3 separate regions of the Homo sapiens genome follow, and regions 1 and 2 are each reported to be linked to region 3. Evidence: microRNA targets listed by miRTarBase, many of them from high-throughput screens and not tested one by one. Region 3 holds a microRNA gene; each other region holds the end of a gene's coding sequence.
What was found. The annotated mature microRNA hsa-miR-6515-5p reads UUGGAGGGUGUGGAAGACAUC and lies in region 3 at 1,981-2,001, opposite strand. An mRNA with a match to its seed (bases 2 to 7 or 8) in the 3' UTR can be bound and repressed. Matches are read on the target gene's strand: a 7mer-m8 pairs with bases 2 to 8, a 7mer-A1 pairs with bases 2 to 7 and ends in A, and an 8mer does both.

Region 1 (4,000 bases), not on the chromosome of region 3:
GGGTCCCGATGCCCAGCAAAGGGTGTGAAGAAATCTTTTGTAAACTGTTTAATTTGTAGAGCTGTACACTTGGTATTTTATTCTAGTGTCAGTCAGATCTGTGCCAGGGATATTTCATGTTTAATTTCTGAATCATCTTGCTCTTGTGGTCCTTTTCTCTTTTGTTAAGTGTGTGGCCCACTTGGACTCCCAAGGCCGTTCCATTAATCCTCCAGCCCCTGCAAAGCCCTGATGCATATACCCCTCCCTACCCTGTGCCTACGCAGCTGCCCTGCGTTCTCCCACTTGCTCGGCCCAGCTAGGGCTGAGCTTCGTCTTGCTTGCTGCCTCCCCTCTTCGGGACTGGGCTGGCTGCCTCCTCAAGGCCCTGCCTGAATAAACGGCTCTTCCCTCTCTTTCCGGTACAGGACTCATTACCAGAGAAGCTGGCTGTGCATGAGAAGAATGTCCGCGAGTTTGATGCCTTTGTGGAAACCCTGCAGTAAAAGTATCCTTGAGTCCCAGCAGCACCCCCTTTTTGTGGCCCCAGGGCATAAGCAGCCTCCCATGCATCAGCTGCTCCCACCCCTCATCCTGCTCTGAGCCAGGTGGAAGGGAGGCTGGCTTCTCCCATGGGGACCCAGAAGTCCCTACTCTTGGACCTCCTGGAGACTCCGTGGCGGCAGTCAAGCCCAGTGCCCAGTTGGAGAAGACTCACGTGCTGGCCTTGGAGATGGGAAGAACCTTCGTACGAAAAAGCCCTCAGCAGGGCCATCTGTGTGCCCTGCCCATCACCAACTGCTTCCCAAGGGTGTCATCCTGTTCCTCCTGCTGCCGGCCTCCTGCCTGGGCCTGCCTTGCAGCTGGCCCCTTCCCTGCCTGCTGTCACCATCCACTGTTTGACATTCCAGCTGGTGGCCAAGAGATTGGTGTGGAGTCGCAGAAAGAGGAAGGAGACAGTGCCAGGAGGAAGAAGGAAGGAGTCCCTTAGCTCTCTTCATTGTCCCCTTTACTTCCTGCTATCTTCTTCTCCTCTTCTTCTCTCTCTTGCCTCTATGCCTGTATTTCTGGCAATATGACAGGCCTGCCTACCCAAGATCAGAACTCCAAAACCACTCCCACCCCTGAAGGTCGGGAGGGTCTGAGCAGCCCTGGTGGCTGCCTGTGCTCAGGTCCTCAGCTCCATGGGAAATAAAAATGGCACCCTGAATCTCTAGGATTTTGTCACTTGGAGTCACAGCAAAGTTCTCTTCCTCTTGTCCCCCCGTTGCTGCTCCTTGGTTATAGAACATGGTAAATATTTATTACTTTCAGAGAAACCAGATATTTTATAGAGGAAATATGTTTGAGGTGAGTTGTTTTTCACTTGGAGAAGGCGGAGGGCTCTTCCTGGGACGGAGACCTCCTCCTCCGGAGGTTATTGAGAATCCGGGCTGCTGCTTTGAGGATCTTCCCACCATACAGACAGCGAGATCCAAGAAGAGGGCTGGCCGGGGGCAAAGTCACCTCCCAGTGTGGCTGCACTGGAACTGACTAAAGGCTTTACCTTGGATAGTTGCGTATTCCTGGTGAGAGCCTTACATCTCCCACAGTTTCTGCAGAGTGACTGACTCCATTCTGGCAGCCCAGGAAGTCCTGGGTGCTAAATGTGATGGCCACATGTAGTGGTTAGGGGATGTTGTGTGTGTCCCCCAACTGCCTGGGTACTTGTTCCTGATCCCTGGGGCTGTCCTGTGGAGCTTTTCCTCCTGCTTGGGCCTAGCTACCATCTCCCTCTAATCCCAGGTTCTCTACACTGCCCTGGGGTTTACCAGCTGGATTGGCTTCTGGTTGAGAAATCAAAGCTGGGCGTATGATTGACTTAACCCTTCAGGTATTGTTACTTGAATAAGTCAAGTGCCTAGCCTCACCCACCTATGATCTGTCCTTTCCCAGCCTCGCTGGTAGTCCTGGTCAAGGAGATCTAGGTCTACTCCATTCCTCCTGGCCCACCTGGGGCATTCACTGGCAGCAGCTGTGCTTCAGTGGAGCAGGTGGTTCTCAGCTGCTTGTTAGTATACTGCATGTGACACTGTTCCCACATACAAGGCTGACTTCTGAGGATTGGAGCAGGCTCTGGCGGGGACCAGAGCTCTGCGTGCTGCTGCTGCCACCAAGAAGTGTTAGCAGAAGCAGTAGCAGCCAACTGGCCCTCCTGACTTTGGCCCAGAGCACATGCGTGGCTTGCTGAACCCAGGCTCAGGTTTATCCCCAAGGCCCCAGCTTTGAGAAGGGGGAAGGCCCCTGGTAAGTTATTGATGCCCCCATATTTCAGCTACTGCTCTCTTTCCAAGGCCTTGCATGGAAAGGCCTAGCCATTGTCTGAGGCAGCAATCTTTGGCATCTACAGGTGGCAGCAGCCTTTCACCAGGGCTCCATCTGTGAAGAGTCTCAGCCATGACTTTGAGCTGAGCTTGGGAGAAGTAAAGCAACTGTTAAGGCCAGCCCTTGCCCCTCAGACCTGCCATGAAAGGAATGAGCCCTAGACTGACTCCTGCAGCACCCCCGGGACAGGCTGGGACCAGCTGTTTGTCTCCAGGTGTCAGAGTCCCTCCTCCTCCTCCAACCTCTCCAACCTACTTTGTTTGGAAATACCGAGCTACACTTCAAAATGTATTCAAGGGATTTCCAATAAATTTTTTTCTGTACTTTACAGCCTCCTGTCCTGTAGGTTGTCTGAAGACCTCGTAACCCCTTCCCCACCCCTGCCCCAGTGCAGGTCTGGGAAAGGGGAGAGTGGTGCGTTGTGAAGCGCAGAAAGACCTCAAGTGTCTGGGCAAGCCTGTTTTGAGTCGGGTGTGGCCTCTTAGGGGCTGTATACCCTGGGGTTTCCTGGGTCAGGAAACTTCTTAGTATTTCTCTTTCCCTGGTCCCCTATCAGGGGCTTGAATTTGAATATTCAGTTGGAGAATGCATTTAAAATACACCCATAGTAAAATCTCCATAAAATGCAGGCCACCGTTATCAGCTCTTTATTGCTCTTACATAACAACTCACCCTGGAGGGAAAAACAACAGTGCAAGGCAGGGAGTGCAGGGCTCCCCAAGCCATCTGGGGGATTTGTGGCTGAGCAAGCAGAAGAGAAGTAGCAGGAAGTTAAAGGTCCATGCAAGTTTGTTAGCTGCCTTGATCTGACTGGCGGTGCTTGAGCAGCCAGGAAGAGTAGAAGAGCCCCGGGGTATGCGTCCTGTCTGGCTCCTGGGGCCTGGGGCTGCAGGCCTCTCAACCCGGCCAGGGCCAGCCCCGCCTCCTAATTCTCCTAGTTTGTGACCATAGTTAGGGGAGGGAGCTGATTGGTGGAGACAACATCCCGGAGGTAGGGATGGTTCTAGAGGCAAAAGAGAACTGACAGAACTGGACAGCTGCTGTCTGGGTTGCTTCCCCACCCGCCTTCAGGCTGAAGCTAGGCCCAGGATTAAAAGGGCTGGTTAGAAAAGTCCAAATCCAGCCTATTCCTGGAGCCAGGAGCTCCTGATTATTAGTAAACCAGGTGACACTGATCATGTGGCCAGCCAGGACAGTTGCCCAATACCTGAGTCAGAAGTGACGAAAAGGCTGTTCTGGTGTTCCCCCTTCAATCAGGAACCCCCAATAACAAAGTTTTCAGTTGCCCCATGCCCAGCAATGGTGTCCTACCTCTTTAAAGCATCTCCCTACACTCTACCCCTGGAGGCCATCGTTGTTAAGGCCTTGGTAAATTGGCATTTGAGTCACTCAGCAGAGGCCCTGCCAGGAGCCCAACCCAAGTAAACAGTTTCCTCGCTCCTGTTTCCCTGGGTCACTGCCTCTCTATTCCAGCCACTCAGCTCTAGCTGAGCAGATCCAGAGAGAGAGGAGGCCCCCAGTGCCTGGAGGAAGGCCACCATTGTGGAATGGGACTTGCTTCTTGGGGCTGAGGCCCAATGTTTGTAATCACCATCTGTAACCACAGCCTGATCCTGCAGCTCTGGCCCTGCTCCCCCAGCCCGGACAAGCAAGGAGG
Region 2 (4,000 bases), not on the chromosome of region 3:
GATGTTCAACTTTTGCCAGTGACCCAAAGCACAAAGGTTAATCAATATTTTACTCTATGTAAAGTAGTTGGTCTGTGGCATTCAAAGTCAATAATCCAGAAATACATAATTAGAAAAGCATTCAAGATAAACATATGACAGCTGAAGCTGTCACATTTTTCTCATGGTCATAAAAACAGAACAATCAATCTTTAAATTAAAAATTTTAGTATTCACTTGTTAAGTGGTATAGCATCTTAATATTTTAAATGTTGAATTGTCTTCCAGACATGGAGTTCTAACTCACCTTTTTACTACTGGTTTAAGGAATATTTTCTATTTCTTGATTCAATAAAATATTTCCTCCATATATTTCAAAAATATAATGCATGAAAAAGAACCAAATCATATCTAAGAGAAATGAAGGGTAAAACCAAACAACTTTCAACCCAATGTGTGTCATGCAGGTAAAGTAAGGAAAAAACTGAGCAAGTTCCAAGAGTCTACCAAGAAAACTGTTTTGCAGCTTCATCTGTTGAATGAACCTTAGGTTTCACAAATAAGGTATACTAAATGCCTAATGCTATGTCACAGATTGAAGTGAAGGAAAATTCTCAAATAAGGTTTTATTGTGAGAGTAACTTAGGGGAGGTATCACAATACAAAAATGCTGCTGTCTTGAATAGGTCCCTATCTTATTTATCCATCTGAAGATATATTTCTGTTAATGTCCTTAAAAGCTGTTAGTTATATAGGGTTTAATGAGCCACAAAACAAACAATATTTTTGTAATATTTTGTGACAATCTCTTGAGTGTTGTAGAAGTGAAGAATTTGGTCCCAGCACCAAAGAAAATCAGTTAAACTCAGTACATTAAACAAATTTTCTTAAAGTTTTGATAGACATAACCACAATAGCAAATCTAGCAATTTTAATGTATTTAATGTGAGACAAATGCCAACAACTCTCTCAGGCCTCTGCTTCATTTAACTGTTTACAAATCATGTGGTTACTCTAAAGTCATGAAAATAAATATTATTATCAGAGGCGAAATTCCTTATTCTCACCTATTTTAATGCAGGGACAGCCTGTTCTAGCCACTTTACAGCAGAGGATTACCTGGGGCCACCCATCTGGAGTAGGCCCTGTTGACAGCTGCTACTGTGTACACAGGCTGTACTCTGTGTATACACAGCATGTATGCCCATGTGGGAGGGAGAAGCCAGCTAGCAAGAGTTAGAGAGATTATGTCCTGGCAGAGGCATCTGAGACAGAAGTGACACGAACACAACTACAAATGGGTATTTAAGGCCCAAAGAGAGAGTGTTAGGCTAAATCTCTAATCATTAATAGTAATTTGCTTGGTAATTTGATGGAAATTTCAACATTACATAGTATTCTTAATAGACACCAATGGGTAAGAAACTGAAAAATGTGCCTTATTAAAAAATTCCTTCTAATTTCCAAATAGAACAACTGTAACAACTCTCAGGCTCTGAGAATACTGTTCCATATATGCAAGCTTTGTCTACAGTTAAATTGCTTCAAAATAAATCAAAGGCTTTTTACTAATTTAGGTTGTGTCGAGTGTAGCTTGTGCTAAGTTCAGGAATGATTTTTTTTCCTGCATATGTTCAGAATGTGCAGAACAGAATTAAAGTGAAAAAAGCCAGAACAGATACTGTGAATTGACTGTACCCACGGGACACATGAGTCTCTAGAGAGAATACCTATGGTTAGGTACTCTTTTCTAGCTCATTACGGGGAATGAGTTCAAAGAAGACAACCGGTGCCCCTCCAGCATCTAAGTCTGGTTTTCTAAACGCAAAATGGAGACCAGCACTCCCCCAACAATATCTGCAGGAAGGGAAGGCTTCCCAGGGCCGTTGTTCATTCTTCCTTTCCACACTACCCCAATTCTCAAGGCGATGCTGCTCATCCAGGCCAGTGCCTTGGAGGATACTCATGTGTCTCGGGACACACGTCTCTTCTGGAGACACGGGAGGGCCAAGGTCCCAGGAAGTATAATCCACCCAAATCACAAGCCATGTTTTCGTAAAGGCCTCTTCTTTCATTGGGTTTGAAGGATATTATGGGTATTTCTCTTAAAATCAATAAGTTTGCAGAAGTTACCTTTTTACTCCAGCATATATATTTAAGCAATTAGATGATAGTAGTCTATGTACAAAAATTGTAAGGAAGCTCACATTCTAATTTGGTGTTGACTACATTTGTTACTGGAAGTTACTGAACCCAATTAAAAAAAATCACTAATTGCATCCTGTTTACAGGAGTCTAAATTAAACATTGTTTTTGTTACTTATGAGGCTTTTATCATCACAGAAAAAGCAGTGTTTGGTAATCTGCTATTTATAGTTCCTGACCAGAACCTTAGCATTCTCAGTAGAATATCACTGGAGAACACCTGCACAGTATCAATTTAGTATTATCCCTAATTTGATGGCTCTTTTCAAGAATTCAGTCCCATGTACTTCCTCTAGGGTAAGAAAATATGAATATGTCTGGTCAGAATCACAGAGATGCGCCTTGCCTTCAGTGCAGGAAAATGGGTCTATATAAATCCATGTTTAATGTAGGCAGTTTTCATAGTCAAAAGCTTAGCTAATGTTCCTAATATAACTTTCTTATATTTATTAACAGCAATAAGAAGGTTTATAAAAAGAGTTGTCTGCAGATGTTTATAAACATTAATTCATATTTCATATTTTACACATTTAACTGTTTTTATTTAATGTTATCTGGCCTAGGAATGAATCAAATATGTTCTCATTTTTTTCATTATGGTTCTTATCACCTATTTATAATTTGTGTGGTTACAGCATTCTTACTGCAATAAGACTAGAAATTATAACAATGTTTTCGCCAATAGTGTTTTTGCTACTTTCAATATGAAGCAGGGATTTTAATGGAACTACTACTGTGTGATAAATTGAGGCAGTTATACAAAATAATACATGTATAATGATACAATAATGCTATTTCTATGAACAACATCATATTTTTAAAAACCCAGTGAGTATTATTTTCAATTTGTTAAGGTTGCAAACCTTCAGTGAAGCTTGTTTCTCTTTTCTTGTTCCTTCTTTCAAATTGAAATGACATTTTTGTTTATAGAGCTCCAGGTCAAAGGATCTAACAATTTTTAATAGCAATTTCCTATAGTGAATACTTGCTTTTTCTTCCTAGTCTTGCAGCAAAAAACTAAGCAAGCTTTGACATAGAGGGACGCATGTGAATACCGTAAATTTATACACAAACTCCCATAAATACTCCCTTTCAATCTAACACAGAAGACGGGGCAGGACGGACGCAGCAGTTGGGGCGTCGGAAGTTCTGCAGCATGGACTGGAAAACACTGTGCTGCCTTCCTCTGAGCTTCTTATTTGAAGAAGTATCTGAGGAAATGGATCTCCGGGTCTGGCTATTTTGAGTTTTGATTAATTTCTCATGTTCCCTGATTTGTCTTTGCAAATGGTTCTGGATCGCGATTCCCAGGGACTCTGCGTCCAAGGATGCACCATACACTTCCCAGGTCATTCCCTGCTCATCCCACACGACGTCCCTGACACGCTTGGACTGTTTCAGCTGGAGCTTGGAGTCTGCGCCAAGCTGCTTTTTCTTATCTCCTGGAGTGAGTCCTACCTGAGCAGCAGCTGCTGTCACATTTAACTTTTGCTCCTTGAGGAACTCGCTGACGCGGCTGGGCCTGCGTGGGCTGGCTTTGACGGAGCGAGATGGGGTCTTCTTGCCAGAACCTGGGCTGGAGTCACCCATGGGATCAGATGGCAGGCTCAGGCTGGTGGCTGTCTTGGTCTGTCTGTTTTCTTCTAAGGTGCTCTCCTGGTTCTTCCTAATTGGGGAGGGTGTAGGATTAGCAGCTGATTCTGTGCCTCCACTTTCTTGGGATTTAGGATTGAGCAGTAGGGTTTTGGCATCCGAGGTATCAGTGCCAGTAGACTCTTTTTCTTTTACTACCTGAGGAGATGCAGGCTTCTTTTCC
Region 3 (4,695 bases):
GTTTCTCACTCTCTTATTCAGGTATTTTTCAGGTACCTACTACATGCCAGAACTGTCTTGGGCACAGAAGGTATTTCAGTGACCAAAACAGACAAAAATTCAGTCCCAGCATTTTTTTTTTTTTTTGGGACAGAGTCTCGCTATCACCCAGGCTGGAGTGCAATGGCATGATCTCAGCTCACTGCAAGCTCCGCCTCCCGGGTTCACGTCATCCTTTTGCCTCAGCCTCCCGAGTAGCTGGGACTACAGGCGCCCACCACCACACCTGGCAAATTTTTTGTATTTTTACTAGAGATGGGGTTTCATTCACCATGTTAGCCAGGATGGTCTCCATCTCCTGACCTTGTGATCCACCCGCCTTGGCCTCCCAAAGTGCTGGGATTACAGGTGTGAGCCACTGTGTCCGGCCAAGTCCCAACTTTTTTTGAGAGGGTCTCACTCTGTCACCGAGGCTGGAGTGCAGTGACATAATCATGGCTCACTGCAGCCTCGATGCCCCAGGCTCAAGTGATCATCCTTCTTCCTTGGTAGTTGGGACTACAGGTATGCATGACATCTCGCCAATTTTTAAAGTTTTTGTAGAGGCTAGGCATGGTGGCTAACCCTTGTAATCCCAGCACTTTGGGAGGCCGAGGCGGGCAGATGACCTGAGGCCAGGAGTTCGAGACCAACCTGGGCAACATGAAGCCCTGTCTCTACAAAAAGGCTGGGTGAGGTGGCTCACGCCTGTAATCCCAGCACTTTGGGAGGCCAAGGTGGGTGGTTCATGAGGTCAGGAGATGGAGACCATCCTGGCTAACACGGTGAAACCATGTCTGTACTAAAAAAAAAAATACAAAAAAATTAGCCAGGCATGGTGGGGGGTGCCTGTAGTCCCAGTTACTCGGGACCCTGAGGCAGAAGAATGGAGTGAACCTGGGGGGTCGTGCGGAGCTTGCAGTGAGCAGAGATCACACCACTGCACTCCAGCCTGGGCGACAGAGCAAGGCACGGTCTCAAAAAAAAAAAAAAAAAAAAAAATTAGCCTGGCATCCATAGTAGCACATGCCTGTAATCCCAGCTACTCCGGAGGCTGAGGCAGGAGAATCGCTTGAAACCAGGAGACGGAGGGCGCAGTGAGCTGAGATCGTGCCATTGCACTCCAGCCTCAGCAACAAGAGTGAAACTCTGTCTCAAAAAAAAAAATTTTTTTTGTAGAGATAGGGTCTCCTCGCTGTGTTGCCAAGCTAGGTTGAGTTGTGTAACTCCTGGCCTCAAGCAATCCTCTGTCTCAGCCTCCCAAAGTACCGTGATTGTAAGGGTGAGCCACTGTGCCCAGCCCCAGCTAACTAACTGGGTTACCTGACCACCTTCTAGGTCTTTGGGGGTAAAGAAGTTGATTTGCATAAAAGTACTTGGGGAAGTACTTGGTGCACAGCAAGTATAACCTTAAAGGGGTTGCTGTGAGGACTTCACAGGGACAGACCAGGAAGTACTGTTTACAAGAAGTACCATTTTTGAGTCAGACTCACCTGGGGTGCCTACCCTGTCCCTTTCCTCTTGGGTGATCTTATGCACTTGAGGTACCCCAGGGATCCTCCTTTTTCCTCCAAGTCTCACCTGCCAGAGGTCCAGGCCCAGCACGCCAAAGTTATCATAGGCATAGATACTGGGATCGGGAGAATACTCGGGGTTGTCAATTTCTGGGTGGATCCAAGTGCCCTTGTAATCTGGGTTGTCGATCTGCCGGGGCTTCCACTCACCCTGCAGAAGGGAGAAGGAAACCGAAGGGTGAGTAAGGTTGGTGCACTCCCCACTGTGAGCCCCAGCCCTGCTCAGAGCCCCAAACTCACCTTGTACTCAGGGTTCTGAATCACTGGGGGTTCCCACTCTCCGTCCATCTCTTCATCCCAGTCCTCGGGCTTCTTAGCATCAGGGTCAGGGATATGCTCGGGCTTGTCCCAGTCCTGGGGGGTAGATGAAGAGATCAGAGTTGGCCCAGATGTCTTCCACACCCTCCAATGTGGAGAGCAGAGCCCCTGCCCAAACACCAACCTCAGGCTTGGAGTCTGTGGGATCATCGATCTTGGCCCGCTCATCCCAGTCTTCCGGTTTTGAAGCATCAGGATCCTTTATCTTCTTGGGTGGCAGGAAGTCCCAATCGTCTTCCAAGGAGCCGGACTCCACCTGGCTGTTGTCAATCTTCACCTCATAGGTGTTGTCTGGCCGCACAATCAGTGTGTACAGGTGTGTAAACTCATCATCCTGAAGAAGGAAGAAGGTGAGCGGGGGCCACCCCCCAATGAGGCTGACCTCTGAATCTCCCCATGACAGCCATTTGCCACCACCCCCAGGCACACCTTGCAACGGATGTCCTTGTTGATCAGCACGTTCTTGCCCTTGTAGTTGAAGATGACATGAACCTTCTTGGTGCCAGGGCCACAGATGTCGGGACCTAGGTGTGAAGCAGATCCAGTTAAGAGTCAGAGACTACCCATCATCTCGAGGCTCTCACCCCTCTTTATAAAAGGAAGACCTGGTTCTTCAACTCGGGTCTGTCAAGGCTGAGAAGAGAAACTCAGACCCTGATTCTGTCCTGAATGGGCTGTGGGTGGAGCCTTAAGTTTAAAGGAGAAAAAAAAAAAATCAGTGCTCTAGAACTCAAAATCCTCATTAGTAAGATTGGGAAATAACTATATACAAACACGCAAATTAAATTAACAGCCTAGATCTGCGATCATAATGCAATAAATTGTTGCTGGGACTTATTCTTTTAGCTCCCCTTCCAAAAAAAATCATTATTAAGAAAGTCAATGGGGTCTGGGTCTCCCTCTAACTAATGGGACAGAGATCAGCACCAGGAAGCAGGCCCTCACCAAACATGATGTTGTATTCTGAGTCTCCGTGCATGTCTGTCTGGTCCAAACTATTAGGAAACAGCTTCACATAGCCGCCCCCACAGTCGATGTTCTGCTCATGTTTCACCGTGAACTGCACCACCAGCGTCTGGCCTTTGTTGCTGAAAGGCTCGAAACTGGCCGACAGAGCATAAAAGCGTGCATCCTGGCTTGTCTGCAAACCTGAGACGGGACGGTAGTGAGGTCACCGTTGGGCCTTGACTCGCGAGGACCCTCGACTTAGAGAATAGAGAAGACTCCCCCACTTCCTCCACCTGTCCTCCTCCAAGGGGACTGTCCCGGCTGTGTGTGTACAGACAAGGACTTCTGCCAGGAAGTCCTCCCGGATCTGAGCACCCACTCCTAGGCTCTTACCTTTATCTTTCTCCTCGTCACCGTAGAACTTGCCGGAACTGAGAACGAATTTGCCAAAATCTGACTTGTGTTTGGATTCGATCCAGCGGGAAGTCCACCCGTCTAAGTGGGGGATTAGAGGGGTAGGTCAGAGCGGCTGTGCTAATCCCCCCCCACACCAAACATCTGCCGAGAGCCACAAGCTGCTGGGGACAGGAAAGGAGATCCCCGACACTCCCCATTCCAACCTCTAGTTTGACACGTCGGGTGCCTTCAGAGATCCTCGGGCTAACCCTAACTCCCGCCGCGGGAGGCCGCTACGCCCTCCGCGCTCCCCAGGGACGCAGAAGAGAAATCGCCCGCGGCTCTAGTCCCGGGAGGCCACCGTGTTGGACCTCTAAACGGTAATTACGGGCGACAACGCAGATCCAGGATCGGGGGCCGGCCGCGTCGTCGGGGCGGCCTCGAGGCGGGACCAGGCGTTACCTCCGTCCAGAAACTGCTCCTTGAAGTAGACGGCAGGCTCGGCGACGGCCAGGCCGAGGAGGCCGAGCAGCAGCGGCACGGATAGCAGCATGGCGGGCCGAGGGGGCGGCAACGCGCGGGCCCTTTAAAACGACCCTCCGGCAGCGGCTCTGCAGTACGGACGGACGCCGCCGCCCGCCTTGCACTTTTATACCCACCCGCCTCTCAAACCAACCTGACCCAGCCCTTGGGCCCGCCCCTGCCACTTTGTCATTGGTCTATGCCCATGGCCGTCTTTTTCCATTGGACCTTCGTCGGTTCACTATGTTAGGCTGCGCCTCGGAACGCTGGGTTCCCAGATGGCCGATTTCTATTGGCCTCACCACCGACCAATGATGGTCGACCACGCGTGGGGGGGACGCCCACTGGTGGGGTGGGGGCCGCGAGCACCTCAGGCCAGGTCATGTGACCAGACCTGAACCCAACCCCGCCCTCGTCCGCGCGCGTCGTTGCCCATCTGGGCGTTTAAAGAAACCGCGGGAGCGCAGCTGTCTCCACGCGGGACCGGGACCCTGCCCTCAGCTTCTCTCCCTCCCATTCCCTCTAGGTGGAGGGGCTGGGCAAGGCTTTCTTAGCCAGCTCTTATCTTGCATTTGAGAACCAGCACCCCACTGCTGCTCCCCCACCCCTGCCTGGGATGGGAGAGAGCTCACGGATTGGGGCCCTTGGGGCTTCGCTGCACCCCGGTGCTACAGTCACGCGGGCCGGTGGGAAGAATGCCAGCCCTCTCCTCCTTCTGCCCCTAGAGCCCTGGCAGCCTATCGGACTGCTGCTGTGTGACCGGGGCAAGTCACTTAAGCTCTCTGAAGTGACAGACGTTCCTGAGCAGACAGAGGGGGCGACCCTGGCCAGATGCTACCCAGCAGAAATGCTTTTAACGTTTTTAAAGCTGTCCTGGGACAAGAGGGGAGGAAGGCTTAACGATGTGACTGTGACTTCT

Region 1: the mRNA of ATG13 is a reported target of hsa-miR-6515-5p. Seed matches in the 3' UTR shown: 7mer-A1 at 2,578-2,584.
Region 2: miRTarBase lists GPRIN3 as a target of hsa-miR-6515-5p. Seed matches in the 3' UTR shown: 7mer-A1 at 1,932-1,938.

What each region holds. Positions count from the first base shown.
Region 1 is chr11:46,671,848-46,675,847 of GRCh38, forward strand. ATG13 (autophagy related 13) reads left to right here. Exons shown (of 19, transcript NM_001346311.2): 19 at 408-2,671. The coding sequence ends at 485. Among named protein-coding and RNA genes, the nearest start is that of ARHGAP1, 27 kb to the right of the region's middle.
Region 2 is chr4:89,244,504-89,248,503 of GRCh38, forward strand. It overlaps GPRIN3 (GPRIN family member 3), which reads right to left. Exons shown (of 2, transcript NM_198281.3): 2 at 1-4,000. The coding sequence ends at 3,277. Among named protein-coding and RNA genes, the nearest start is that of GPRIN3, 61 kb to the right of the region's middle.
Region 3 is chr19:12,937,792-12,942,486 of GRCh38, reverse strand. It overlaps MIR6515 (microRNA 6515), which reads right to left and starts at 2,003; the gene lies at 1,947-2,003. It overlaps CALR (calreticulin), which reads right to left and starts at 3,878. Exons shown (of 9, transcript NM_004343.4): 1 at 3,717-3,878; 2 at 3,252-3,353; 3 at 2,856-3,059; 4 at 2,340-2,434; 5 at 2,035-2,244; 6 at 1,833-1,946; 7 at 1,600-1,743. The coding sequence starts at 3,807. RefSeq lists enhancers at 1,431-2,058, 1,395-2,594, 3,487-3,536, 2,831-3,580, 4,207-4,256 and 1 more and a cis regulatory region at 3,638-4,276.